Linked DNA regions of Homo sapiens. The protein of the gene in region 1 purifies or fractionates together with the protein of each later gene. This does not show direct contact. Each region holds a gene or a part of one and is shown in the gene's direction. Other genes may lie near its edges. The genes, in order: PEX3 and ABCD3.

What was found.
Region 2: the proteins of PEX3 (region 1) and ABCD3 purify together in Homo sapiens (affinity purification with mass spectrometry; 2 studies listed by BioGRID and IntAct, with this or other methods). This does not show direct contact.

What each region holds. Positions count from the first base shown.
Region 1 is NC_000006.12:143,445,579-143,461,074, forward strand, and holds the start of PEX3 (peroxisomal biogenesis factor 3), read left to right. Parts: upstream 1-5,226; 5' UTR 5,227-5,464; coding exon 5,465-5,537; intron 5,538-13,506; coding exon 13,507-13,638; intron 13,639-15,496. Other genes in the region: ADAT2 (tRNA-specific adenosine deaminase 2), read right to left, coding at 1,257-1,320, 4,985-5,080. UniProt on the Homo sapiens protein: Involved in peroxisome biosynthesis and integrity. Assembles membrane vesicles before the matrix proteins are translocated. As a docking factor for PEX19, is necessary for the import of peroxisomal membrane proteins in the peroxisomes.
Region 2 is NC_000001.11:94,479,035-94,494,530, forward strand, and holds part of ABCD3 (ATP-binding cassette sub-family D member 3), read left to right. Parts: intron 1-1,429; coding exon 1,430-1,572; intron 1,573-2,397; exon of another isoform or gene 2,398-2,521; intron 2,522-2,540; exon of another isoform or gene 2,541-3,984; intron 3,985-4,135; coding exon 4,136-4,205; intron 4,206-8,507; coding exon 8,508-8,577; intron 8,578-8,659; coding exon 8,660-8,757; intron 8,758-8,857; coding exon 8,858-8,949; intron 8,950-10,690; coding exon 10,691-10,782; intron 10,783-10,868; coding exon 10,869-10,941; intron 10,942-12,149; coding exon 12,150-12,213; intron 12,214-15,496. UniProt on the Homo sapiens protein: Broad substrate specificity ATP-dependent transporter of the ATP-binding cassette (ABC) family that catalyzes the transport of long-chain fatty acids (LCFA)-CoA, dicarboxylic acids-CoA, long-branched-chain fatty acids-CoA and bile acids from the cytosol to the peroxisome lumen for beta-oxydation.

The sequences.
Region 1 (15,496 bases):
GGACGTGTTGAAGGACCTTGCCAGCTGTTATCTGACAGCACTTTATATCTGTCTCTTGTGGTCTTTGGACATGTTACTTACCAACCTTTTCATCTGTGCCTGACTTAATTTCATCAATTAAACAGTATGTTCCTGGAAGGCAAGCACTAGATCCAGGCACTACGAAGCTTCTCTTGCTCACCTCTGCAGCCTATGCACCCAGCACAAGGTCTAACACATAGCAAAAACTTAATCATACCACATTTGTTGAAATGGTGTCTGTGGTGTTTGCTTTCTTTTCGAATTTCCCTCAGAGCCTAGCATAATGTTATATTAATATCAATTGCCCCAAAAATGCACACTATAAAAAAATACAATTGACTTTTTTCTAGAAAACTTGCAACATTTTTTCTATACACATATGTATAGATAGTTAGTCAATCTTTCTTTTTTCCTAATTATAAAGTAAGATGTGTTCAAGGTGGAGAACTTAGCGATTAAAAAAAAAAAACCTCATGTATCAAAAAAAAAAAACCCACTAAGAATCCCAATACCCCAAAATATAATCCCTGTTATTCTGAAGCAACGGGGGTTTTTTCTGTTTTTTCCTATGCCCTGCATACACATATTTACAGTTTTTAAAAAGTCAAATAGATTTACACTGTATATACAGTTCAGCAGTCTGCCCTTTTCATTTAGAAATGTATTGTTAACCTTTCCCTATATTGGGTAATATTTTTTCATCACATGATTTTGTAAAGGTTGTACAGTATTTCTCCTTATGAACATATCTGATTCAACCAACTAGTCTCCTATTATTTGACATTTAAGTGATTCAAATTCTTCACTATTATAAACAAGTAAAGAACTTCTCTATATAAATATTTATATTGCTTCTTTGTGATTTATTCCTAGAAACAGCTGTAAAATACAAAGAGCTCCTACAGTGCGATTTTTTAAATCAAACTATTACAAAATTGGGGAAAGTATATGCCTCGGCAATTCACAGAAGAAAAAAATCTAAATGTTCAATTAAATTACACAGTAGATACACAGTATTCAGGTAAAGAAACTGAAAAGGAAGAAAGAGAGCAGAGGATATGTTGGCAAGCAGTGAGCTACCTAACACCGAGAGGCAGGCCAGGCCAGTATTTAACAGCAGATGACAGGCCTCAAATCACAGCCCCATCCTTCCCAGCTCTCTAACTTTGGGGAAGTTACTGAACTTTCTCAGCTTCAATATCCCATCTGAAAATGAGGACCATAATAATACTCACCTGATAGGGCTTCTGTGGGGCTTATAACATGGCCCACATGAAAACACTGTGCATAGCATAGTATCTGGAACACACCAAGAGTGCAACACTATTACTTAGTCATACTTCTTTTTTCCAAGCCTATCTTTAGAATGTTATGCTGAACATGTTATGATGATTAAAATGATAACCTATGATGATGCTATGCTTAGCTCTCAGAAAGAAACCTGCCATGAAAAATAATGGTTTTATTAAAAAGCAGTAAAGTTGATAACCTTATATGCTATCCAACAGATCCTTTTGTAGTGATGGAAATGTCCTTTGATCTGTACTGTCCAATACGGTAGCCAGTGGTTATATGTGGGTGCTGACTACTTGAAATGTGGCTAATACAACTGAGGAGCTAGATTTTATTTTATTTCACCTTAATTAATTTAAACTTAAATAGACACATGTGGTTAGTGGCTACGATATTAGGCATTATGGTTTTAGAAGGCAATACAGGAATATCTATATAATTTCAAAGCACATACATCCTTTGTCCCATTTTAGGTAGTCACTCCATAGCAACAGAAATACCATGAGGTAGGGAGGAGTGACTAATATATTAAGACTACCAAAAAAAACTGCTGATAATCAAAAAGAGAACATATAATTCCATTTATGCAAAAGTACATATGGCTGTTTACATATGGACAGAGAGATATGGAAGGATGCTCCCAAAATACTAATAGTATTATCTCTAATAGTAGGACTTTTAGGTAATTTTTACATAATTTGTTAACCCTTTTTTATAGTTTGAATTTTTTATGACCATGAATTATTTACATAACCAGAAAAAGAAAACATTAAAATATTTTCACTTTGGGAAAAAAAAAAAGGGCATTACTGGATCAAAGGATAAGCTCACTTTTAAGGCCTTTTATATCTGCCTAGCCAAATTGTCCTAATAAAAGGGTGTTCTACGCTTTTACACTGTTGGTGGGACTGTAAACTAGTTCAACCATTGTGGAAGACAGTGTGGCGATTCCTCAAGGATCTAAAACTAGAAATGCCATTTGACCCAGCCATCCCATTACTGAGCATATACCCAAAGGATTATAAATCATGCTGCTATAAAGACACATGCACAAGAATGTTTATTGAGGCACTATTCACAATAGCAAAGACTTGGAACTCAACCCAAATGTCCATCAATTATAGACTGGATTAAGCAAATGTGGCTCATATACACCATGGAATACTATGCAGCCATAAAAAAGGATGAGTTCATCCTTTTCATTTGTAGGGACATGGATGAAGCTGTTAACCATCATTCTGAGCAAACTATCACAAGGACAGAAAACCAAACACCGCATGTTCTCACTCATAGATGGGAATTGAACAATGAGAACACTTGGACACAGGGTGGGGAACATCACACACCGGGGCCTGTCATGGGGTTGGGGGGAGAGGGGAGGGATAGCATTAGGAGATATACCTAATGTAAATGACGAGTTAATGGGTGCAGCACACCAACATGGCACATGTATACATATGTAACAAACCTGCACATTGTGCACATGTACCCTAGAACTTAAAGTATAATAATTTAAAAAAAGTAAATTAAACTTAAAACTTTCAACTTTGGCTTAACTAGAGTTAACTTTATCAGCATATTAAATAAAAACTGTAATATACATGTTACATACAAAAAAAAAGGGTTTTCTAAATTCAGCTCCTCCCAACCAACAAACACCTCAAACATGCACACCCTTATTATCACCAAGCATTAAAATTGCTTTCACTTTTGCCAATTTAACAGGTAAAAAATTGTGTATCATTTTAATTTGAATTTCATTAATAGTGAAATTGTGTATTCATTTATTTGCTGGCTACTCACTCGTCACTTCTTTTAGAAATATCATGTTCAGGTGAGGTGTGGTAACTCACACCTGTAATCCCAGCACTTTGGGAGGCTGAGGTGGGACAACTGCCCGGGCCCAGGAGTTCAAGACCAGCTCGGGCAACACAGAGAGACCCTGTCTAAACCAAAAAAAAATCTTCTAAAAATAAAAAGAAATTTTAAAAAGAAATATATTCATAGCCTTTGACCTTTTTCAGTATTAGGGTATACATCTTTCCTTTTACGTCGGAAAGTACTTAGATTTTATATAAATTATATGCTACGGTTATTAAACCTGTCCTTTTATATATGTCGCAAATATTTTCCTTCTTTGTATTTCCTTTACTTTGTATCTTTTTCTTTTTTGAGACAGGGTCTGGCTCTGTCTCCCAGGTTGGAGTACAGTGGCACAGACACGGCTCACTGCGACCTCAATCTCCCAAGGCTCAAGCAATCCACCTTCCTCAGCCTCCTGAGTAGTTGGGACTACAGGCACATGCCACCATGCCCTACTAATTTTTAAATTTTTATTTAGTAGTGACGGGGTCTGGCTAAGTTGCCCAGGCTGTTCTTCAACTTTTGAGATCAAGAGATCCTCTTGCTTCTGCCTTCCAAAGTTTTGGGATTACAGGCATGAGCCACTGCATCTGGCCATGCTACTTTGTATCTTTTTAAACATGTAGATGTTTTCAAAGAATTTCTAGACCTCTCTGGCTTTGACATTTTTTGTCTCTTAATTGTATTATAAACACCTAGGGATGTGATTCCATAGTTTACGTCCTCCTACACAGGATTAAGGAGGCAGCTGCTTCTTGGGTTTTAGCATATACAAGTTTCTTCAAGGTCTTAAAGGAAAAAAAGTACTTGTTAGGAGGGCTACATGTCACTGGGCAACAGGAACTTTTCAGCTTCATTATAATCCTATAGCACCACCGCTGTATATGTGGTCCTATAAGATTATAATGGAGCTGAAAAGTGCTAGCGAGCTTCTTAACTGGGATAAAAGTTTGTTTGTAAACGTATGTAAATGTATTTACATGTGCTAGCCCAGGGTCAACCTAAAAGGTAGCGAAAGTGTTTAGCCCAGAAGTCTACATAGAAACTAGGGTTGTCTACCTCCATACCACCCTGAATGTCCCCCGATCTCGGAAGCTAAGCAGGGTCAGGCCTGGTTAGTACTTGGATGGGACAATAGGGCTAAGGTGAGTAGATTTAATGCTCCAGGATAACGACCTTTACCGACAGGTCATTGTGTGGCACGTGGCTGTATGTAGTTATTAAAATGTAAATACATATATTTACAAACAAACTTTTTTTCCCAGTTAAGAAGCTCGCTAGCACACAGCATTCTGTTGAAAGCCCCCTTTATTTCGCAGTCCTGAAGGGAGTGAGGGAAGGAAGTAAAAGGGCAGAGGAAATAATGAATGAATGCGAGACGCCGATTGTACAGGGACTTGTTTCCATACTGCTCTCTACCAGAAACGTTCTCAGTTTCCTTCCTTCTGCTGGACATGTTCCAAGGGCCAAAACCTCAAATAATGTGACTTTGTAGATTGGAGAGTGTGTGACCACAGAAAGGAAAGGGAGGCAGCACGTGCCAGCCGGCGACAGAATGTTAAGTCTGCAGCATACTCCACCGCAATGAAACAAATAATTTGTGTATTTCCTCCCCTTCCTTCGCCCAGAGCCACTGTGAGAATGGGCTACAGAAAGTTTCGAGGCAGTAAAGCCAGTTGTTCACCCAGAACATCTGACTGCCATAAAAATTATGGTGACGAGAAAGAACGTTTGCTCAAATGCCGGGGTCGGGTTGAGGGCTGGAGAAAGGTCCCACCCCGCAGCATCTACCTCCCGGGCTCCTCACCATGTGCATCGCCTCCTCCATCCACTTTTCGGTCTCCTCTGCCGACACCGAGCACGCGCCGCTTGCAGCTGGCTTGGGTGCCGCCTTCGCCTCCATACCCAGCCACCACTCAGCTACAGAGCCCGCGGCAGAGGAGGAGCGCGGGCAGCGGAACGCGGCGGGCCCGGGACCCCGTTTCCGGGGGTAGTCTAATGAAAAGGCACTCGGGAGCTATTTCTGAACGGACCTGGGCTTGTCGGACCAGTGAGCGGCGGCGGCTGCGCGGCGGCAGCGGCAGAAAGCGTAGCTGCTTTGCTGTAGTCCACGCCCCCTTGCCGCTCCGGTGACAGTCTCTGCGGAAAGTCACGTTTGTGATTTCGGGAGAGCACAGAACGGGACGACGGCGCTCTTGCTGGGTCATCTGGGCCAGGTGACGAAGAAACAGTTTCCTGGTGAAGCAGTCCCTCACCCCTAGTCAGCCCACACCCCTAGGGCCTAAAGATGCTGAGGTCTGTATGGAATTTTCTGAAACGCCACAAAAAGAAATGCATCTTCCTGGGCACGGTCCTTGGAGGTGGGTGACAACGTGCTTGAAAGGGGGCATTGGGAGAAGGGGGTGGGAGAGGTGACTTCTTCTAAAATAAGGACAGGCCGGGCGATCCTAGTCTGGGATATGTAGAGGGAGTTCGATCAACCATGGGATGAAAAGGGAGGTGGCCAACCTCCAGGGTTCTCCCATCTCTGCAGTTGAGAAATGCCTCTGTGCCCTTTGCCCTGTCACCGACTCTTAACTCTGTTTCTCACCTATCCTTTTTTCTCACGGACCTTTGGAGAACTCATCACAGTTTAAGTTTCTGTTTCAAGGCACCATTCTCTTACAGGAACTTTTTAAAAAAAATTCTGCTTTCCTGTGAGATTCTGCATTTCTCCTTGGCACTCTTGATACTTTGGCTCTCACCCTTCTCAGGAGTTTAATAATAATCTAGGGAAGTTACCTATAGGCTGCACTTCGGGTGGTGGTTAAAGTCGATTTGAATTTTTGAAAACAGCGCAGTTGTCCTAAAGGACTGAAAGATATGGATTAGATAAAGAAAAACAAATCAATATTTTAGCTCTGTTTCTGCCATTTTAGAATACAAACTATGGCAGTAAGAAAAATGCTTGAGGGATGTTGTGCAATCTTCCTCAGGATCTTCAAGGTTGGGATCATTGTAATCTAGCTGACATAACTGAGTTGCACAGGCCCAGAGGAGATTTAGAAACAGATAAGATAAAAATCTTGAGACGCTTTTCCCTCATACAATGCTCATGTGATAATATTCAGGGATTTGAAGGAGGGAATAAAAGTTTTGTGAATTATATGAAAAGGACATCTAGGAACTATAAAAGAGGAAATTTGTTAGAACTTGAGTTTTTGAGAAATAGTCTCATCACTTATTACATGCTATGTTTACAAAAGTACTTAAAATCAAGAACAGAGTTTCCCAAAGAATTTGGTTGGCTTTTCTCTTAGTATTAGATTGTATTCTGTTCTCCCCAAACAATTTGAAATTAACAGTACGTATTAGATTGTATTCTGTTCTCCCCAAACAATTTGCAATTAATACCTTTAGCATCAATAGTTCAGATTTTGGTGATGCTTGAAAGTTTGAAACAGAGTTCTTGTTGCTGAGCCAAGGATGGTGTTTTGCATGTCTCTGAGGTCTATCACACATCAATAATAAGCATATGTAAATTTTGAACACCTTCGAGAAATCCTTTATATATAAAAGGTATTTTCTGATATCTTCAGTCGCTAGTATCTAATGTATATTTAAATTATCCTAAGACTACAGAGTCCATTTTATTTATAAAAGCTAAAAATATATGTGTGATTGAAGAAATACAAATAAAGTATTTTTGCGTTTACTGAAGGAAGGAAAATTATCTCTTTAGCGATCTCAGAAGGAATACTCCTTCAGCTTATGGAACAACTTTGTAGTAGATTAGAAATAATCACAGGGGAAGCAAAAGAGTATACTTAAACTTATAATTTTTTTAAAAAACTAACAAGAGCTTTATAGTTACAGAATAAGAGGAATGCAAAAAATAGAAAAGTTCAGACGGCCAGAAAGAGAAAATAATCCTAGTGTTTTATATCAAAAAAGGAGTCAGTCTGAAAAGAAAGGAAGAGTAGATGACCGTGGTTGGCATTTGTTTGAGTCTCATGTTCTTTCTGCTTCAGGGAGAAAGTTCTACAGTGTGTTAGATTTTAATTAGTCTAACTTAAGAAATACCTATCAAGTGCCTGTAATGCTGAAGGTAATATAAATGGAAATACAAGATTTATATATTTTTAATAGTAACAGCTACTATTTATTGGGTGCCCACTTTACGCTGGGCATTGTGCTAAGCTCTTCCTATTTAAGCAGAATGACAAGAAGACAATTATTATTATCCCCATTCAAAAATGTGGCAGCAAGAACCCTAAGAATTTAAGAAACTTGCCTCAGGTCTCAGAATTAGTGAAGGGGAACTGGAATTCAAACCCAGGTGTGTTGGACCACAAAGCACATTCTATTTCCATATTATATCACTGTGCTTTCATGGCCTTTATAGTCTGATAGGAAGGAAAAGCAAGTATACATGTAATTAAGATACAGAAAAACAAGAGAGGTGAAAAAATGCTGTACAGATCACACTGGCAAGTAGCATATGCAGTTGTGAAAAATCAGGAAGAATTTCATGGAAGAAGAGACACATTTTGACAGGCTTGAAAGCTGGGTAGTATATCAACAGGCATGCGCAGAGAAGTTTGGGCATTCAATAGTGGGGGAAGTAAGTAAGTAAAACCTTGAGTAGCAGGCCTTCTTAAGTAACAATTTCTGTTTCCTCAGATTTTGGGTGGGTAACTAATTGGTTTACGCGTTTGTATAATTTGACCAGTTTGGGGGGTTTGGGTGTGTTCGGGTTTTGTGTTTTTTTGTTTTTTTGTTTTTCAGACAGGATCTTGCTCTGTTACCCACGCTAGAATACAATGGTGTGATCGTAGCTCACTGCAGCCTTGTTTTCTCCTTTGCTAGCTTTACAATGTAAGGCAAGTAGAAAGGCTTCCTTATGAAGATTTGCCTGACATCTTCACACTTTCCTCACTCATGCGATCCTCTCACCTCAGCCTCCCAAGTAGCTAGGACCACAGGTGTGCACCATCATGCTTGGCTAATTTTTAATTATTTTGTAGAGACAGGGGTCTCACTACATTGCTCAGACTGGTCTTGAACTCCTGGCCTCAAGCAATCGTCCTGCCTCAGCCTCCTAAAGTGCTGGAATTACAGGCATGAGCCACTGAGCCTGGCATAATTTGACCAGTTTGTGAAAAGACTAGAGAATTGACTCCCAAACTTTTTGATCTAAGGTCTCCTTTACACTCTGAAAAATTAAGGACCCTCAAAAGCTTTCTAAATTTTATATCTATTAATAGTTATGATATTCAAAATTAAAATGAAATTTTTTAAAATATTAATTCATTTTAAAATAATAAACCTATTACATATTAACATACATAACATTTTCAAAAAATTAATGAGTGTCATTGTTTTACATTTTGCAAATCTTTTTAATGTTTGGCTTAATTGAAGAAAGCTGGATTCTCATCTCTTTCTATATTCTGTCAGTTGTGGTATCACACATCATGTAACCTCTCAATTACTCCACTGTATACGCATGAGAGAATGAGAATGAAAAAGGCAAATAACATTTTAGTATTATTACGAAAACAGTTTTGATTTTATAGACTCCCTGAAATGGTCTTAAAGACCCCAGGGGTGCCCATGCCACACTTTGAGAACCATTGCACTGGAAAAAGTTTTGGAGAACAGAGAGCAACCAGATTGATATTTATTGACTTACTGGTTTCTGAAAACCTCAGAACATTGACTTGGATTTATACCTTAAATCCTGTAATCTCTGGCTTCACATTTTTTATTCATTCATTCATTCATTCTGTCATTGAACAAACATTTGAATGAGAGTAAGTGACTGATCTCACTGTACTTTACTCTGGAAATACAAAGGAATAAGACAGATCCTGACTTTGAACTCATGGTACAGAAATGGAAATAAAAGTAGTATGATAGTATAGTACAAAAATAGAGCAGGGTGTTGTGGGAGCATTGATGAGAAGAAAGTGTGAAGATGTCAGGCAAAGCTCCATAAGGAAGAATTTCTGCTTAAGTTGTAGAGCTAGCAAAGGAGAAAGGACACAGAAGGAAAAAGAGCAATTCAAGAGGTTCAGCAACATTGCTTTTTATGAATGAAACTGTATTTCACTATGGCTATGCAAATGAGAAGTGGCAAAAGATTAACTTGGAAAAGTAGCTAGAGTACAGATTGTGAAGGGCCTTATGAAGCCATTCTACATAATTTGGACATTATCCTTTGTATTGGTGCTTGCTAGAGTTTACTATGGATAAAAAAATCACTTAGGGAGCTTAATAAAACATAGGATCCTTTATTCCAGATTCTGATTCTTTAGGTTTAGAGTGCAGTTCAAGAATTCCTTAATTCAGCAAATATTTATTGCGTTCTGAGTCCCAGTCAGAGTTTATGTACTGGGGATGCAGCATCATGCAAGATAAGACATTTGGGGGTATTTTCTTTTCTTTTCTTTTCTTTTCTTTTCTTTTCTTTTGAGACGGAGTCTTGCTCTGTCGCCCAGGCTCGAGTGCAGTGGCTCGATCTCGGCTCACGGCAAGCTCCGCCTCCTGGGTTCACGCCATTCTCCTGCCTCAGCCTCTTGAGTAGCTGGGACTGCAGGCGCCCGCCACCACGCCCGGCTAATTTTTTTTTTTTTTTTTTTTTTTTTTTTTGTATTTTTAGTAGAGACGGGGTTTCACCATGTTAGCTAGGATGGTCTCGATTTCCTGACCTCGTGATCCGCCCACCTCGGCCTCCCAAAGTGCTGGGATTACAGGCATGAGCCACCGCGCCCTGCCCATTTAGGGGTATTTTCAAGGAGTGTCTTTAAAGGCTACATTTTTAATTGTCCCAAGTGATTCTAATGTAAGTGGAACAGGGAAACCACATTAAGAAATGATGGCAAGATGTTGAAGGATTCTAAAAACATGAGTGATATGAGATTTATGTTTTAGAAAATCACTTTGCATATATAAGATAGGTTAAACAGGTGTGTGACCAGAAAGTGAAGAGTTAGGGACCTATTGAACCAGTTCAAGAGCATTAATTTTTAGAGTCTAAGTGGTGACAGTGATAAAGAAGTTGTAGATAATTGGCAAGATTTAGAAAATGTGTCTGAAATAGAATCAGAATACTGTAGTAGGATTTTGTGATCTGTTGGATTGGGAACAATAGGTTATTTTCAAACTTTTTTTGAAATTATTAACCTTGTGAAATAGTTGCATTGTAGGGATTTTCATCCAGAAAGAGAAGACTAAGAGATGGTTTTAAAACAACTGAATTGTGGAAAGACTAGAAGTCTTATTTTCTAGTAATGTTATTAATGGAAAACTCAAAGCATTTGACATTTATTTTTTAAGGTATTTAGTAAATATTTTCATTGTTAATACATAAAGTCATAGCTACAAAAGAAACATTAAAGCTCATATAATCCCAGTCTTTCATATTGAGGATGAAGAAATTTAGACACAGAGGGAGGAAGGGACTTTCTCAAAAGTCACATAACTACTTGATACCAGAGCCGTCAATATCTCCTGTTTTCCAGGCTAGGCTGCCAGTCGAGTATATAGATAGTCATGAGCTCCATGTTTTAGCTAATGAATTACCTGTCCTCATTCTTATTTTTCTAAGGGAACAAATCTGACAAAATCAGAATTTATGAGCCTGGATGAATTAGACCTTGTATAAGAACTTAGTTCAGTGCTAAAATCAAGAAAAATAATGGATTGTGTGATTTTAGCCTGATTTCCAAGTACCACAAAATGGGCGGCTTAAGCAGCAGAAATGTATTATCTTACAATCCTGAAATTTAGAAGTCTAAGATCAGGATTGGTTCCTTCTGCAGAGTGTAAGGGAAAGATCTATTCCAACCCTCTCACCATGGCTCATAGATAGGCATCTCCTCTGTTTTTGCTTTGTCTTCCCTCTGCAATTGTCGATGTCCAAGTTTCCTTTTATAAGGACAAGTCTTATTGAATTAGGACCCACCCTAATGACCTCATTTTAACTTGATTACCACTGTAAAGATTCTATTTCCAAATAAGGTCACATTCTGAGGTGTTGGGGCTCCCATGGCAATTCATTTTCTTTTTTAGTTTAGTTAGAATATCAAAGTGTGGCTAACTAACTACTCTGTAATGTTCACATTCTGATTTCACGTTCAGGAAAATTTCGCACTCAGGAAAACTGACTTCCCCTCAGATATAGACCAAATGTACACACTTATATCATACTGCCTATGCTGAAATGTGTTAAATAGCAGTTCCTAAAAAAAATCATCAGATTTGTTGAGACTCTGATTAAAGCAGTGGACCTTCTCCCCAGAGAAACACACCAATCAAATTTACTATTGTTAAAGAAAAAAATTCTTAGCTGTGCAAAAAGTGTCATCTTAGTGTTGATTTTACAGTATAATTTGAGAAATAATCATTTTACATGTAACTTTCAGTAAGCTGTTGTGCAAATAAGATACAAACAATTCCTTCAGATCTATTATGTCAGAATTGCCTGTCATAGAGTAACTTTGTGAAATGTAAGTCAGTTTCCTTTGTTGGTATTGTAGCACTATCATCAGTTTCTTTAGAATGGAGTACAGGAAAGGTAGCCATGTAGCCACTTATATGAACTCTCATTTCTTCTTTAAGCTTGGTTATAATACATTAATTGCATATAAACATAGCAACAGCAATCATACTGTAGTTCTAATTGTTTTTAGCACATACCCTTTTACTGAACTACTATTTTTAAGAATATGTAATATCTTATCAGTTCACCTATAGCACCTGTATTAGTGAAAATAATTCAGGATATGTATTTGTTTTGCAGTTGCTAGAGGGCTACCCACTTTCTACCTGTGACAGACCAAATCTAATTACTTAGGTCATGCACAATTCTTAGGTTATGTTTAGTAGATACTGGGGGTCACAGACAGTGGGAGGTAGGTGAGCATTAGTTAATTCCTTACAGCCTTGCTCTCAGGTTATAATGAAACCAAGTTCTGGCACACTTAAAAACATCTACTGGCAAACAGAGATTAAAAGTAACACAACCTGTTCTGTAAGCTTATTGAAGTCCCAGTGTTCTGCCCTTGTTTCATGCTACCGCAGAACTGCTTATAAAAGATTTACCTGAAGAAAATGCAACAATATTCTAGCTGTAGGATTTGGTTGGCTACCTGGTTAACTCAGTTGACTAAGAATCCTTTGAACTAGCGGCTAAGGATCCCAGGCAAAGGTGAAGGACTTGCTTGATTTGTATATTCTAGTTCATATGAATATTACTAAAATGTTTTAGCTAGTCCAGTATCTTGAAAACCATTAATCTATGAAAATCCATTCCTGATAATCATTATGCTAATCAAAAATATTTGGTGCTAAATCAGTGATAAAAGCTAGTTGAAGAGCTTAAGCTTTGGAATGTGGCTTTTGATCAAGTGTGGCTAACTAACCACTCTGGAATGTTCACATTCCCAGCTAGGAAAACTGACTGCCCCTCAGATATAGACTAAAATGTACACATATATATCATACTGCCTATGCTGAAATCTGTTAAATCACAGGCCACATGACACCACCTATATTCTTATCCTGTGGTGTTAGAATTTAGGAGTTTCTGTACCCTCTTCCCTCTTTTTTTTCCAGTTAAGTTACTAATTTTTAGATGAGAGAGTTGTATTTTCTCTCCTTATCTCAAAGAGATTTTTCTAACACATGGATGGATAAATAGACTTCTGCCTGACTAACTACCTTTCTTTCATTGTTCCTTTTAAAATTTTTATCTTATAGTTTTAAAAAGCATTTTGTGTTCATTGAAGAAAATATAGAGGACAAAATGACCTGTTATCCCACCATTCAGCAATGATCATTGTTTGTTATATTTTAGAAATTAAAACTCACCTATTTTTTGTATCTGTTTCCATTAAAAAAAGTAACATTTCTGGGATCTTATTTTATCACCTAACAGTATAACATGGATATTTCCTTGAGTCATTATTTAGCAATGTGGTTTTTAATAACTACATAAGATTTCGTTGTATGGCTAGACTATCATTTATTTAAACAATTCTCCATTGCTGGACATGTAGAATATCTCTAGTCTACTAGTAAAGGCACTGCCAGACTTTTTAGATTTAATTCCTTTCCCTTCCTCAAACCTGGTCCTTATGTGCCCATCATTTCCTCTGTCATTGGCTGTAAAAATGCTAATTTCCTTTTCTTTGGGCCAATCTTACAAAATTCTTTATTTAGGTTTTAAAAATGTAATTTTAGCTATCCACTAATATAAAACTTATAATTGCATAAAGTAGGTTAAAAATACTGTGTAGAATTTTTGGTACTCTAATGAATATAGTACTTTTTTAATGATTGTAGGAGTATATATTCTGGGGAAATATGGACAGAAGAAAATCAGAGAAATACAGGAAAGGGAGGCTGCAGAATACATTGCCCAAGCACGACGACAATATCATTTTGAAAGTAACCAGAGGACTTGCAATATGACAGGTAAGACAGAGAAATATTTATACATGTGTAAAGTTGTTTGACGGTTGTATTAATTTGCATATCACCGGGATCAAATTTAGAGGAAAAGGCAAAGAAAAGATGGTAAATCTAGCAAGTGTTTGAATGATTTAACTGAATTACATCATTTTAATGTGAATTTTAAAAATCAGTTCATTCATTTTATTTATTCATTTAGCAAATACTTGTATCCAGGCCTGGGGAAGCAGGAAGTGAACAACAACAACAAAAAGCCCCTGACCTTTGGAGTTTATATTCTAGGGAGAGGAAAAGATGATAAACAACAAATAAGTAACTTTAGGCAGTGATGGCTGCCATATGGAACATAAAGCCATGTGAGGGCTGGAACGTTCTTTAAGACAGGGGATCAGTAGAGTCAGGTTTCTTTGAGGTAACATTTGAGCAGAAACCAAATGTTACAATGGAGGGAGCCATGTGAAATGCCTGAGGCGGGAACAAGCTTGGTACTCTCAGGACACAGCAAAAAGGCCATGTAGCTAGAGCAGAATGAACAATGGCAGTGATAGGAAACAAGGCTGCAGAAGTAGGCTTGATCCCATCGGGCCTGTGGGCCATAGGAAAGAGTCATTAAGTTTATTAAATTTACAGTAGGCAACTATAGACCTGTGAGTCGTCCACAATAGTATACACTCAGGCAATGTTAATTAATGGCAATAATTTAACCTCCAGAGCTAGAAACATAGTCCTGGGAGAATGCCATCACAAAATCAACCTGCCCATATTTGAAGAGAACAGTGTGTCCTAACTGGCATAACTGAAGAATTAGTTCTCAAATCCATGCAAAGCCTGTTTTTCTTTTCTATTGTTTAAAGCTTACTCATTTCTCTAACATTCTTTCAAGAACAATTAATTTAGAAACAATTTATAAAGGTACATTCTCCTTATTTAATTTTAAAATTAGAAATTTTTTAGAGTTAAAGGCCTTTATTATTAGTTTACTTACCTCATTTTACTTGAGGCTGAGATTAAGAAGGGTAAGAGGCACATCCAAAATTACAATTGGAGTATGATTTTTAATATTTGAAGTAGTAATACTCAGAAAAATACCTTCATTCTGCAAAGCGAATAGTAATCATAAATACTATACATAATGACAATTCTGAGAGTAAAATGAACATTATAAAAGCCACTTCATAAATGTTTTGTGAGGCCGTGATGAGATAATGCCTATACAGTGCTTGATGTATGATAAATACTTGGTAAATGATAACTTTTTAAATTTACATTTAGCATTCAATATATTGCCACTGCCTAGGACATTTTAATGAATTTTTAGGGAATGGTCCATTTCTGCTTATTATTTGAATTTTCAAAAAATAATAAAATGGGCCAGGCATGGTGGCTCACGCCTGTAATCCCAGCACTTTGGGAGGCCGAGGCTGGTGGATCACCTGAGGTTAGGAATTTGAGACCAGCCTGACCAACGTGGAGAAACCCCATCTCCACTAAAAATACAAAATTAGCCGGGCGTGGTGTTGCATGCCTGTAATCCCAACTACTTGGGAGGCTGAGGCAGGAGAATCACTTGAACCTGTTAGGTGGAGGTTGCGGTGAGCTGACATCACACCATTGCACTCCAGCCTGGGCAACAAGAGTGAAACTCTGTCTCAAAAAAAAAAAAAAAAAAAAGTAAAATGTAGCTGCTGGGGTCTTAAAATACATCGCAGTTTGACATGGACCCTTGTGTCAGTTTGGGTCCCCTGGGAAGCAGATGCTAGGATGGGATTAGATGTACAAGAGATCTACTAGTAGAAATGCCTGTAAAGGATAAAGGGGAAGGGAGGCAGAAGAAGGCAAGCGAAGCATTTAGGCCACAGTG
Region 2 (15,496 bases), on another chromosome or scaffold:
ATGTGTATGTGTGTATATGCATTTCAGTTGATTAATAAATTATTTCCATACTGGTTTTTGTTGCTTTCCAAAACACTGGAAAAGCAGGGTTTTGGTTTTGCTTTGTTTTGTTTTTCGAATTTTTCTGTTTATTTTCCTAATTCTTTGCTGTCTTGTGATCCAGGTTTTATCATTCTTGTATTTTGTTTTACTATAACCAAGTGAATAGGCCAAATCCTTCTTGTCTCCTTGCAGTCATATTTTTATGGTACTTAACTACATTTTTGTGATACTTAAATATGTCTCCATGTCTACTTGTTATCTGATTCTGCATTTCTTAAAGGCAGAAACTGTTTTAGTTATCTTTTTGGTCCACATTTGTAGTAGTTGTTGATATGCATTGAATTGATCAGATTTACTTTTTTTTTTTTAATCTTGAATACTTACTAGCACATATATTGTGCTAGATAGTAGGAATAAAAAGATAAGTAAGACACAATTCCTGCTGAAGAGGAATTACAATGTGGTAAAACAGGTAGATAGTCAAACAATTATGATGCAGCATGATAAAGTTTAGTAATAGAAGTTTCAAGAAAGTATTTAGTGCCAAGAAGAACTGGAGGTGATATCTGAGCTACTTTGGGGAGGTAAGTAAACATCCATTAGATTATGTCAGGCTTGCCAAACATAAGAACAACCTCACTGAATGGAAACTGTTCAGGAAACATTTATATATTTTAGTATGGCAGAGTATAGGGTATATAGGGGAATGAGGGAAGTGCCTATGATGAACTTGGAAAGGTATGCTTCAAGCATACCTTTCTTTTTCTCTTGGGATGGTCAATGGGTGATGAGGTCACGTACAAAGTTATTAATACATAGTACAGCAGCTGGAAGCAAGATGTACACGCAGGGAAAGACAGAGCTCGTTCAGGGGGAGCTGAACTTGAGGCATCTGCACAGTATTAAGGTAAAGATGTGTAGTACTTATTTCTTGGGTTCATAAGAGTGATAGGACTAGAGGTATAGATTTGAGATGAGAAGAGAACTAAGGAAGGAGTTTGAGGGAATATTAACATTAAAAAAGAAGGCAAGAAAAAGAGGTCTAAGAATTATTGTGGAATCTTAAGAGATTATCAAGAAGAGTTCCAACAGGAGAGTGTTAGATAACATAGAAAAACTGTGAACTGCAATTAGGAGTTTTTAGGTGAGCAAAATGTAGGAGAGCTGAGGGATAAGCTACAGTGGTAAGAGGAAAAGCCCATGAGTAGTAAAAGTGTAGAGGCTACTGTGTACTTTTTCAGAAAAAAAACAAAGGGAAAAAATTACCCAGTAGGGCAATTTCTTTCAGTCATTGAGGTTAATTATAAAAATTGTACATGTTTGTATCTAAGTGAATTTATTATTATATCCCAGAACTTTGTGTATCTTTCTCTCCCAATAATAATAGGGCCCAGCGAGCATGATGGCCTACTTGGTTGTTTCTGGGCTATTCCTAACTCGACTTCGAAGACCCATTGGTAAGATGACAATAACTGAGCAAAAGTATGAAGGAGAATATAGATATGTTAATTCTCGGCTCATCACAAACAGGTAAAGACAAATGCATTAAAGCCTTGCTAAAAATTAATTTCTATGGATATTGATGTCATTTAAATTGACTCCAAAAAGTCTAGTGACACTGTTACTGTAATAATGTGCATATTGTGTTGAAAATATACATTATGAAAGAGACTAGTTTTATAAAGTAGTAATCATGAATATTTTGAACTCTTTTTCTTACTAACCATGTAGTATTCCTGATTCACCTGTTCATACCTTCTGTTGATGAATTTTCTGTTAATTTTACTTCAGACATAATCAGTTTACAATTCAAATTTCAACTTACAATACCTGTTCCAAGACAATTTTGTCTCAATTTTTCCACAAATATTTTTATTTTGACTGTTCATAATGCTCAATGATTCACTGTCACTGCATGTGCCTCTACCTATTTTCTAGAGTTTTTTAAATGTAAGATAGGAAGAAAAAGTGTGGACTTTGGAGCCAGCCATACTAGCTTCAAAATCTACCTCTTCCACTTATCAGTTGCATGTATTTGATTTTAGCGAATTATTCATAGTTTCACTTTTGTTTATAATAGGTAGATAATATAGGGTTGCAATGAGGATTAAATTTGATAATACATATAAAGCTTCCAGCTCAGTTTTTTATATGGAGCAACTGCTCAATAAATGTTCTCATATATTGATCTGTTAATGTTAAGTCATTTTGAGGGTTCTAATATGTATTTAATATTCTACTCTATAGGCATTTGCAAATGACAGTTCCCTCTTCCTTTATTTCCTTGGATTGCTAAAATAGTACAAGTTTTAAATAGGGTTTTTTGCTCTAGGGAGGCAGCGGAATAGAGTTAAGAGGTGATTTGCCAAGTAAATGAAAGATGCCTTTTAGTGAAAGAAGCAGAAAGCATGACTCATGGCTCCAGTAATAAGAACACTCACTGCTTCACGTGAGAACCCTTAAGACAGGGCAGTTCCAGGTATGGCATTATCAGGGCTCTGGCTCTCTGGTGTTCTCTTGGCTCTGCCCTGCTTTGTATGCTGCCCCATTCCTCGGGCTAATTCTTCTTGTGACCACAAGATGGCGATAGCAGTTACAGATTTCACTAGCTCCTCTCCCCTGCAGAAAGCTCCAGAAACAAAAAGGGGCCATCTCGCCTGGTGTGTCTTTATGAGAGCAAAGAAACCTTTCCCAAGAGTCCCACAACTGACTTTCCCTCATATCTTATTGGCTGGAATGGTTACTTGACCATGCCTAAAGCAATCACAGCAAAGTGATTGGCTTAGACCAGTTGGGACCCTAAATGGGGTTGAGGCATTCCTAAAGCATTAGGGTACATGGAAAATAATAGATAACTTTACAAAAGTTGGGATTATTTTAGGAAGAAGAACAATGAAGAGAATAGATGTTGGATGGGCAGCCATCAATATTCCAGGATGTTTTATCCTTTCAGATTTTTCATTAAGGCTAAAATGACTCAGTTCAGGAGGAGAATCCTCACCTCATCTTCTTCCATAGGCTTAGGTGTGGAGAGGAGATAGAAGGAAGTTTTTTTAAAAAGTAATTAGAGGTATAGAATTGTAGGCTTCTTATACTCTTGAGTCTCTGTCATTGTGTCAAGGAAACCATGAAACGCGTGACAAATGTGTCATATCTTATGGGAAGTTAATTTTACTTGAAGTGGTTGAGGTAGGTGGTACCTTGTTTTTATGAAAAACGCAGGTCCATTTCAAAATAGAAATATAAAACATAAATTGTTTAGGGGAAAAAAGAGACTTTAAAGAAATATTTCAACCTTGCCTTCTAGACTTCTCTATAAATATTTTTCTCTGCCATAAGAGGTACTTTGCTGGGAAAGCTTACATCATTCCTGTGTAATAGAAAGACTATAAATGTTAGGGTCAGATAGGAGTTATGATTTCAGCTCCCTGACCTGCTGGCTCTGCAACCTTTACAAATTTACTTAACTACACTGAACTTCTCTTCATCTATAAAATACCTTTTTTTTCTAGTCGTGATCCCTGTGGCCCTTGTGGACCCATGCACATCTGCTCAGGAAACGTGGAATTGTTGTGAGGATATGATGGGGTTCCAGGGTTTCCTCCTGGGAGCTGGCACTTTGAAGCCGGTGGGACTTAGCCTGCTTTTCTGTCTTTAAAAGGCTGTATGTCAAGTCATCACTATCCATCTTTTTCTAGCTGTTGCTTTTTCATCTCTTTCTTGTTTGGGCCTGTACTTTAACTTGAAGTCTGCAATGTTGGTCCCAGCCCTGCCTTTCTGTACATCACAGCAACTTCTTTCTCTAATTTCGAATTTCTGAGAATTCGTGCAGTATGTCTTTTGCAGCCAGGATACCTATGCCATAGGTTGCAGTCCAGCATATGATTCAGTCAGGAGTGTATTCCTGTGCTCCGATCAGCTGAGCTAGGAACAGAATCTCAGGTATAGACTGTGGCTTGAGATGCACCAGATAAGCTCTTAGTCACAAAATGTCCATTTAAATACAAACATTCAGCCATCATATACTGTATTTCAATTATTTTCCAAGCATAGGTAACATTAAAATTAATTGCTAAATTATTTTCTTTAATAGTGAAGAAATTGCCTTTTACAATGGGAATAAAAGAGAAAAGCAGACAGTCCACTCAGTCTTCCGAAAACTGGTAAGATAACACACTTGAGGTTCATGTGTTTATGGAAAGGGTTTTTTTTGTTTGTTTGTTTTGCCTATGGCCGACACACATACACACACACACAAACACACACGTATGTATACATATCTTAAAGATTTTTTGAAAAATAGCTATAAAGGATTTTATACTGCATTTTTAATAAAAAATATGAGATTAAAAACTATCATATCAATATATTCAAGTGCCCATTTATAAAATTGCATAGATTTATTAAAATAATATTAAGTGTACCATCTGATCTTTGACAAACCTGACAAAAACAAGAAATGAGGAAAGGATTCCCTGTTTAATAAATGGTGCTGGGAAAACTGGCTAGCCATATGTAGAAAGCTGAAACTGGATCCCTTCCTTACACCTTATATAAAAATTAATTCAAGATGGATTAAAGACTTAAATGTCAGACCTAAAACCATAAAAACCCTAGAAGAAAACCTAGGCAATACCATTCAGGACATAGGCATGGGCAAGGACTTCATGTCTAAAACACCAAAAGCAATGGCAACAAAAGCCAAAATTGACAAATGGGATCTAATTAAACTAAAGAGCTTCTGCACAGCAAAAGAAACTACCATCAGAGTGAACAGGCAACCTACAGAATGGGAGAAATTTTTTGCAATCTACCCATCTGACAAAGGGCTAATATCCAGAATCTACAAAGAACTTAAACAAATTTACAAGAAAAAAACAACCCCATCAAAAAGTGGGCAAAGGATATGAACAGACACTTCTGAAAAGAAGACATTTATGCAGCCAACAGACACGTGAAAAAATGCTCATCATCGCTGGCCATCAGAGAAATGCAAATCAAAACCACAGTGAGACACTATCTCACACCAGTTAGAATGGCGATCATTGAAAAGTCAGGAAACAACGTGCTGGAGAGGATGTGGAGAAATAGGAACACTTTTACACTGTTGGTGGGACTGTAAACTAGTTCAACCATTGTGGAAGACAGTGTGGCAATTCCTCAGGGATCTAGAACTAGAAACACCATTTGACCCAACCATCCCATTACTGGGTATATACCCAAAGGATTATAATCATGCTGCTATAAAGACACATGCACACATACGTTTATTGTGGCACTATTCACAATAGCAAAGACTTGGAACCAACCCGAATGTCCATCAGTGATAGACTGGACAAAGAAAATGTGGCACATATACACCATGGAATACTATGCAGCCATAAAAATTATGAGTTCATGTCCTTTGTGGGGACATGGATGCAGCTGGCAACCATCATTCTGAGCAAACTGTTGCAAGGACGGAAAACCAAACACTGCATGTTCTCACTCATAGGTGGGAATTGAACAATGAGAACACCTGGACCCAGGGTGGGGAACACCACACACCGGGGCCTGTTGTGGGGTGGGGGCCTGGGGGAGGGATAGCATTAGGAGATATACCTAATGTAAATGACGACTTAATGAGTGCAGCACACCAACATGGCAAATGCATGCATATGTAACAAACCTGCACGTTGTGCACATGTACCCTAGAACTTAAAGTATAATCAAAAACATAAAAAAAAAATTAAGTGTATTTTTACAGAGGTTGCTTAGGAGCCTTATTTAGTGATTCCCACAGAAAGAATTTGTTCCTGAAGCATTCATGAAAATACAATAAAGATTATTATGTAAAGCAAGAGTCAGCAAACTTTTTCCATAAAGGGCAAGATAGTATGTATATATTTTAGGCTTTTCATACCACACAGTGTCTTGCAACTATTCAGCTCCGCTACTCAAGAGTAGCTATATATAATACATGAATGAGTGGGTGTGGCTATGTTCTAATAAAACTTTACTTAAAAAAACAAGTAGCAGGCTAGATTTGGACTATGGGTCAGAGTTTACTGGCTTTTTGTTTTAAAGAATATAAGCATTGTTTCTTGTGAAAGCTTTACTTCAGTTTTTATTTAATTGCCACTTGGAAAATTTGAATTCAAGTACTTTTATTCCATTATTTATTCAAAAGATATTGAATGCCGTCTAGTTGCCTGTGCTCACTCCAGGTGCTAAGGATGATGGTGGTGGACATGATGGATAAAATCTTGCCTTTAAGGAGCTTACATTTTAGTGGAAGTCTGAAGTTTGTGAAATTAAATGTATATTTTAGATGAGTTAAAGAGGTTAAAGAAATTGTCATTTTAAATTATTTCAGAAATTGGATTTTTGCCTCGTCGGTATTTAACATGGCAGAACTTTTAGAGTGCTCACTGGTAGAATGCATTTAAGGTAATTTTTCAGGGGCCTGCAGTTCACCAGTTTGCTCTCCACACGGCTTGCTTATTCTCATCCTTTAGATTTTCAGCCCAAATGTTAACACCTTATTGAAGCTTTGTCTTCTCTGATCAGCCTATTTGAAATGGCCTCCAACAGTTACTTCTTGTTTTAATCATCATCTTTCCTTAAAAGTATATATATATTTGCAGTCAACCCTCTGCATCTGTGGGTTCCAAATCCATGGATTCAACCACACAGATTGAAAATATTCAGAAAAAGAAATTGTGTCTGTACTTATGTACACATATTTTTTTCTTGTCATTATTCTCTGAACAATACAGACATTAGTGTAATAGCTATTTACATTGTATTAAGTTTTATAAGTAATTTAGAGATGACTTAAAGTGTTTGGGATGAGCCAGTTGCGGTGGCTCACCCCTGTAATCCCAGCACTTTGGGAGGCTGAGGCGGGCAGATCAGTTGAGGTCAGGAGTTCGAGACCAGCCTGACCAACATGGCAAAACCCCATCTCTACTAAAAATACAAAAATTAGCCGGTTGTTGTGGCGGGGGCCTATAATCCCAGCTACTCGGGAGGCTGAGGCAGGAGAATCACTGGAACCCAGGAGGCGGAGGTTGCATTGAGCCAAGATGGCACCACTGCACTCCAGCCTTGGCGACAGAGTGAGACTCTGTCTCAAAAAGTAAATAAAGTGTATGGGATGTCGTACTCAGGTATATGCAAATACTATGCCATTTTTCATCAGGGACTTGAGCATCCATGGATTTTGGTATCCAGAAGGTCCTGGAACCAATCCCATCCCCTTTGGATACCGAGGGATGACTGTATTACAGTCTCTAATTATCTTGTTTACTAGTTATGCTCTTTCATTAGAATGTAAACTCCATAAATTCAGGGACCTTCTCTGTTCTATTCATTGTATCTCCAGCTTGAGCACAGTGTCTGACACATGGTAGTCATTGAATAAATGTTCCAGAGATTGTCTAGTTGCAGAAGATACCAAGTTGTTAACAAGCTACCCTGTACTCAGGAAGCCACATTTTAGTGGAGCAGACAATAAATAAACAACTAGATGTTCTGTATAATTTCAGGTAGTAATGAATTCGGTGGCCAAAAATGAAGCAGGATAAAGGGATAGATATGAAGGGGGCTATTGCCCAGCTACTTTAGCTGGAATGGCCAAGATCTTTCTTGAGGAGGTGACATTTAGTCAGAAATCCACATGAAAGTGAAGGAGTCACAAAATATAGATACCTTAGAAGAATGTATTCCTGGCAGTGAGAAGAGCAAGAGGAAATCCTTAAGAAGGTACATGTTTGAGAAACCGTTATTTCTGGAGCTTGGTGAGGAGGAGCAAAGTAGAAGCATATGACCTTAAAAATAGAGCTCAGTGCCAGATCATGCAGGACCTTGAATAATCTGGTAGATGGACAGTTTGAGAACACTACAACTCCAGAATAAAAAAGCAGTTTTAGACTTGTAGTTTTAAGACAATGCGTGCTCATGTTAAAGCTAAAACTGAGGCTGTGTGGCACTGATTTACATTAGCACTCAGTTCAGATTGGGTGTAATACAATTCTTAGATAAAGCACAGACCATGTGTCTCCACTGAAAGCAAAGCATTCAGTGCCAATCCGGACAGCTAGTGTTTCACTCAAACTAGTTAATCTCTGTTCTTTTTGCTTTCGTTGTTGTCCTCTTTTGGGATATGTGTATCCAAAAGCATGGTGACTACAATAGCATTGTGCTATTGCATGCAAGAGAAACAGCATTGTTAAAATTGTTTATGTAATTTCCATGCTGTTTGCATAAAAATGGTTTCATGAAGTGTTTGTTTGGCACCCGCTCTGTGAAGAGCATTGTCCTCGGTGGTGTGATGTACAATATAAACAGAATATAAACAGAAATCACGGGCACTCAGTAAATATTTGTTGAATAAATGAACTATACAGTTTGTTTTATCCTTATAGTAGATTCAGTTTTTTATACAGAGAAAAAGATGGTTTTTTGTTTTTGTTTTCTGCCAGGTGGAACACCTACATAATTTCATTTTGTTTCGGTTTTCAATGGGCTTCATTGATAGTATTATTGCCAAATGTAAGTATATTTTGAAAGAGATGAGATTTGTGGAAAAGGTGAAATACTGTTACTGTTTTAAATCTTACCTGTTTGGTTTCAGACCTTGCCACTGTTGTTGGTTACCTAGTTGTCAGTCGCCCTTTCTTAGATTTGTCTCATCCTCGACATCTCAAGAGTACACATTCGGAACTTCTAGAGGTAAACTGATGATAATACAATGAAAATGTAACAGTAAAAATAAAGCCAAATTTTTAGTCATAGAACTATAAGTAAAAACTAATATTTATTTCTATTTAAGGATTACTACCAAAGTGGAAGAATGCTTTTGCGAATGTCTCAAGCTCTGGGTCGAATAGTTTTGGCTGGGCGTGAAATGACTAGATTGGCCGGGTAAGATTAGTAATAATGAGCTGTTGCAGAAAATAATTTTTAAAAATATATTATCCTTAATGATTGTATCAGTTGAGATTAAGATAAGGGGTCAACATTTCCTAGCCCAGGAAGGTGGTTTTGATAGAAAATTAAGGAAGATTTTTCTGATGGTGAACTTTTCATGTTTCTTGAGGACAGCTGGTTTGCGCAGTACAGTAGATTAGAGGCTGTCAAGTTGTTTGCTCCATGGACACGTATTTGCTAAGTTGGGAAATGTTGAATCATGGCAGTCTTAATTCACAGAAAACTATGTTTATGAATAGAATTTTCTCATTTAAATTTTCTTGTCCTCTACCATACCTTTTTTTCTTGGATCTTAGATACCGGCAACCTAGCAAAACAGATGAATAGAAATGAAGTTGACTTTAATGGGAAAAAAAATGAGATGTTATCTTGTATCTGTAGGCGTGCTTGTGAATGTAGTCATATTATCTAGTAGTAAAATTATCTTTAGACAGTAGAATGAAATTAAATATTAAGATTTCAGTATTTCAATCTCCAATATAAAGGGCATGGTATGGTGTAAAAAACACCATAAATTTTAGGTCACCTGAAGAAGTTTGATGACTGAATATCTTTCCTAGGCCTGTGATCCATCTTCATATTTCTCTTTTTCCTCCTTCTTAGCTCCTGTGGCAGTTATGGTCTTCATGCAATATAGAAGTTGTTAACTACTATGAGTAGAGTCTCTTTCATGAGAATACTAACATTCTTCCTACTTGTTAACTTTTCTTATGGCTTTACAGTTCATGGTATATAAGGTGCTTCTGTTCCTTTAGGGTGTTTCCTTTCACTCTCTCTCTCTCTCTCGCTCTCTTTCTGTGTGGGTGTGTGTGTCTTTCTCTTTCACTCCCTCCCTTCGTCTCCCTGCCCCCCTTTCTTTCTCTTTTTTCCACTTTGTTGAGGTATGATTGACATATAAGAAACTGTTCATATTTAGTGTATACAATTTGATGAATATGGGAATAAGTTATACACGTGTGAAACCATCAAGACCATAAACATTCATCACCTCCCAAAGTTTGCTTTAGGAGGTTTCTGCTTTTTATTCAGAGAAAAATCCTGTTTTCTTCTTCGATGCAGAATACTTTCTCTTTGGCGATCATGGTCATTTTTGTTATCTCCAACCTCTTGTCGTTAGTTTTGATTTTTCTCTATTGCCACAGTGATTTCTATCTAATAATAAGAACTCATCATCTTTCCCCTCTTCAGAGTAAGAAAGAGGGAATCTTTCAGATTCTTCCGTTTGCAGGAAGGCAGCATGCATTCGGCATACATTTAATAAATGCCTTCCTTGGATAGAAAGACCAGCTTTATACATGGCTTTATAGGTCACTTCAGCAAGAGATCAGAGTCCATACTTCCTGGGTCTAAGGAATATACTAGTAGTGGTCCTTTTGTAGTATCCAAGAGAAACCTCCTGAAAATTCTCAGCAAATAACTGCCTTGACTTGGCTATTAATGAAGTATCTGTTGAGTTGGGGATCCTATGGAAACCTCTTCCTTCATCCCTATATTCCTGCTCTCCTACTGAAACATAATAAAGCACACATGTTATCATTAATACTTTATGTTGATGAGACTGTTAGGTTACTTCATTTATACTAAATTATAATTTTAGGAACTTCAGTTTGTATAAAATAAAAGATGTGACAATAGTCTGGAGTTTTGATTATGGTTTCCTTTTCTAAAATTTTAGTTTTACTGCTCGGATTACAGAATTAATGCAAGTACTGAAGGATTTAAATCATGGCAAATATGAGCGCACAATGGTCTCACAACAGGAAAAGGGTAAATATGAGTGTCACAGTTTAAGGTCACAATTTTAAGTGTTTGCTGACATAATATGATGCTTTAATACCTATTTTCCATTTAAGGTATTGAAGGAGTACAAGTCATTCCCTTGATACCTGGTGCTGGAGAAATCATTATTGCAGATAACATTATAAAGTACGTACAGAAAAAGGTCTTTTAGCACCATAAATGTTTGTTAAACTTCATAGTAGTCTTTCTTTTTCAGCTTACAATTGCTTAGTGTTTAAAATTATTTCTGCTTTTTTAAAAAACAGCTTAGAGGTATCATTGACCTAAAAATTGTGTATATTAATATTTAAAGTATGCAACTTGATGCTTTGATATCTGTGTATGTTGTGAAATGATTACGTTTTGGCTAATTAATTTACCTATCGCCTCTACATAGTTAACCATTTTTGTGTGTGTTTAGTGAGAATTTAATTTAGATGTGTCTTAGCAAATTTCAGGTATACAATATAGTATTTTCTACTATTGTCCCAGTACAGTGGATCTACAGAATTTATTCTTCTGGCATCACTGAAATGTTGTGCCATTTGACCAATATTACCCCCATTTCCTCTCTCTCTAACCCCCTGGCAACCACCGTCCTACTCTCTACTTCTATGAGTTTGACTATTTTAGATTCCACATACAAGTAAGATCACATAGTGTTTCTCTTTTTGTGTCTTGCTTATTTTGCTTAGCATAATGTCCTCCAGATCCATCTATGTTGAAAATGGCCCAGTTTCCTTCTTTTTTAAAAGTGGGGTAATATTCTATTGTGTGTATTTTGTGTGTATGTGAATATATACACACTGTACACACTATATTTTCTTTATCCTCTCATCAGTTGAAAGACATTTAGGCAGTTTCCATATATGGACTATTGTAAATAATGCTGGAGTGAACATGGGAGGAAGATTCTCTTTGAGATACTGATTTTATTTCCTTTGGAAATGTTCCCAGAAGTGGGATTGCTAGATCATACGGTAGTCCTAATTTTAATTTTTTGAGGAACATCCATATTGTTTTCCATAATAGCTGTACTATTTGTAGTCCCACCAACAATGTACAAGGTTTCCTTTCTCCACATCTTTGCCAACACTTACCGTTTGTCTCTTTGATAATAGTCATCCTAACAGGTGAGAGGTGATGTCTCATTGTGGTTTTGATTTGCATTTTCCTGATGACTGAGATGTTGAGCACCTTTTCGTATGCCTGTTGGCCATCTGAATTTCTTCTTTTAAGAAGTGTTTAAGCTCTTTGCCCATTTTTTAATCAGGTTATTTGTATTTTTGGTATTGAGTTGTATTAGTTCCTTATATACTTTAAAGTAATTCTCTTTTTAAAAATTTCCTCTATAGGTTTGATCATGTTCCTTTAGCAACGCCAAATGGAGATGTTTTGATCCGAGACCTTAATTTTGAAGTAAGTTTTTAAATGATCATATAAAAGCTTAAATCATCTTTAAAATGTGAACTGAAAAAGATTACCTGAATATTTAAAGTAACTTTAAGGCTCGACTTAGTCTCTGAATCCACAGAATTGCTTTAAAAAGTAAGTCTTTGAAACGCTTAGAAATCTATTTTTCTTAATTGACAGGACTTCAAAATTTCAAATACTACTACCAAAAAACTTTTTGCAAATGAAGTTTATGTCAAGAAAGTCATAGAAAATATAGTAAATTGGAGTCTCCAGTGTAAAATGAGTATTTAAACACACAAATATAATTTTAGTCTCTTTACATTAAAAAGAAACTTATGGTGTGGCTGGTATTGTTGTGACTGTACAGGATGATTTGTACCTATAAAAACAAAATACAGACTGTTTTATTACTGATGAAAACGGGAAGAGCCGCACAGTAGCGCTACAAATAGACACTCACCTAAAACAAGTAAAATCCCATGCCAAGTGAAAACTGATGTTGATTCAATATACTCTGCTAATGAAATGGGATATGGCAGACCAAATTAAAAAGAAAAGACAAAAGATGAATGTTTTTGTACGATTTGTAAGACTCGCAGATTTAAGGGTTACTATTTAGGTTTTCTCTATGTTGTGGCTTTATGAATGGTTCAGATCCAGAAATCTTCATAATTAGTAACAAATTCCTATCACATAGGCTATGTTCCCCATTCTAGACACCATTCCTCTAGAACAACACTTTCCCGTAGAACTTTCTGCAATGATGGAAATGCTCTATACTTTCACTGTCCAGTAAAATAACCATGTGTAGATATTGAGCATGTGAAATGTGACTAGTACAGCTGCAAAACTGAATTTAAAATTTAATTTAATTAATATGATTTAAAATTAAATAGCCACATGTGAGTAGTGGCTATGGTATTGGACAGCACAGCTCTAGAATTCCTCTCCACATGCTAATGTGCATGGCCATCTGTAGTTTGTGTTTCATGTGGGGATTTTTTTCCTACTGCTTTCTTTGAAGGAATATTGTCTGATAGTTTATAAAATAAAGAATATAATTATTGGACTTGTTTTTAATTTGTTACAGTCTTAAGTAAGTCTTCAGTTTTCTGCTCTTAGTAATTTATATTAAGCACATGTCTACTTTCTTCTCAATGAATTATAAAAATGAAAATTGTTAGTTATGCAAAGTACTTTGAACTTATTCAACAATGAGTATTCTATCGTTATCATATTTATTCCAAAGCCAGGAAATACAAGAAGTACAGAAAATGTAAATGTAGTTGGTAAATATTGACTGGCTCCACATATCACAGAAGTGTTTTCTCACATAGCTCCAGGTACTTCAGTCACTTGAATGTTCCTTTGGCAAAGTAGGTAGCCAGGCTTGATTTCCAGTAGCCCCTTTATTGCCACTGTCCAAGGATAAAAAGGACGTGAGACTTCGTTGAAGAATGCCTCTTGTCCCTTTCTCCTACTTACCCTCACTTCTGTCTTTATGCAGAAATAAAATATACCAATAATATAGGGGCACACATGACTGAAGCACAATGAGAAAGGGGGTTGGGATACTTAGAATAGATGGATCATGATTATGGTCCATAATAATATTTTGTCTTGATGTTACCACACTAAAGCTGTCACTTTCTTTTTAGTTCAAAGCCTTTTCTTTTAAAGCCCTTATGTTTGTATTGAATAGACTTCTGTCGTTTCTATAATTTCACTTTTATAGTCTTAAAAATGTCCTAGAAGAAAACCTAGGCATTACCATTCAGGACATAGGCATGGGCAAGGACTTCATGTCTAAAACACCAAAAGCAATGGCAACAAAAGCCAAAATTGACAAATGGGATCTAATTAAACTAAAGAGCTTCTGCACAGCAAAAGAAACTACCATCAGAGTGAACAGGCAGCCTACAAAATGGGAGAAAATTTTCGCAACCTACTCATCTGACAAAGGGCTAATATCCAGAATCTACAATGAACTCAAACAAATTTACAAGAAAAAAACAACCCCATCAAAAAGTGGGCGAAGGACATGAACAGACACTTCTCAAAAGAAGACATTTATGCAGCCAAAAAACACATGAAACAATGCTCACCATCACTGGCCATCAGAGAAATGCAAATCAAAACCACAGTGAGATAACATCTCACACCAGTTAGAATGGCAATCATTAAAAAGTCAGGAAACAACAGGTGCTGGAGAGGATGTGGAGAAATAGGAACACTTTTACACTGTTGGTGGGACTGTAAACTAGTTCAACCATTGTGGAAGTCAGTGTGGGGATTCCTCAGGGATCTAGAACTAGAAATACCATTTGACCCAGCCATCCCATTACTGGGTATATACCCAAAGGACTATAAATCATGCTGCTATAAAGACACATGCACACGTATGTTTATTGCGGCACTATTCACAATAGCAAAGACTTGGAACCAACCCAAATGTCCAACAATGATAGACTGGATAAAGAAAATGTGGCACATATACACCATGGAATACTATGCAGCCATAAAAAAATGATGAGTTCATGTCCTTTGTAGGGACATGGATGAAATTGGAAATCATCATTCTCAGTAAACTATCGCAAGGACAAAAAACCAAACACCGCATATTCTCACTCATAGGTGGGAATTGAACAATGAGAACACATGGACACAGGAAGGGGAACATCACACTCTGGGGACTGTTGTGGGGTGGGGTCCTGGGGGAGGGATAGCATTAGGAGATATACCTAATGCTAAATGACAAGTTAATGGGTGCAGCACACCAGCATGTCACATGTATACATATGTAACTAACCTGCACATTGTGCACATGTACCCTAAAACTTAAAGTATAATAATAATAAAATTAAAAAAAGAACAATAACTACCCTGTATTAAAATACATCAAAATGTTTAAATTAATGAGTTTATTATGATACTCATTATGTTGAAAAGTGACAAAGGGAAAAAAATGTCTTTAATTCTTTCTCTTTTTTGGGTTTCATTTGGAAAGTCTTGAGTCCCCACTTATGTCCTTACTTGTTGGAGTGTTTTACTTCATAACCATGTTCCTTACTTCCTGGTGTTTATCCTGTGATTCTTGTTTTCTCCTCCCCTGGGAACTGTTTCTCTGACTTCTTTTTGGTTCACTGTTATGAATTCTAATCTCTTTCTGACTTAAAGTATTCTAAAGTAGACCTGGGTTTCTCACATTCATTATGTCTTTTTATTGTTTTTCTTAACATAGCCTTTCTATAATCAACAAATGTTCTTCAGTTCTTTGCAGCCTCTA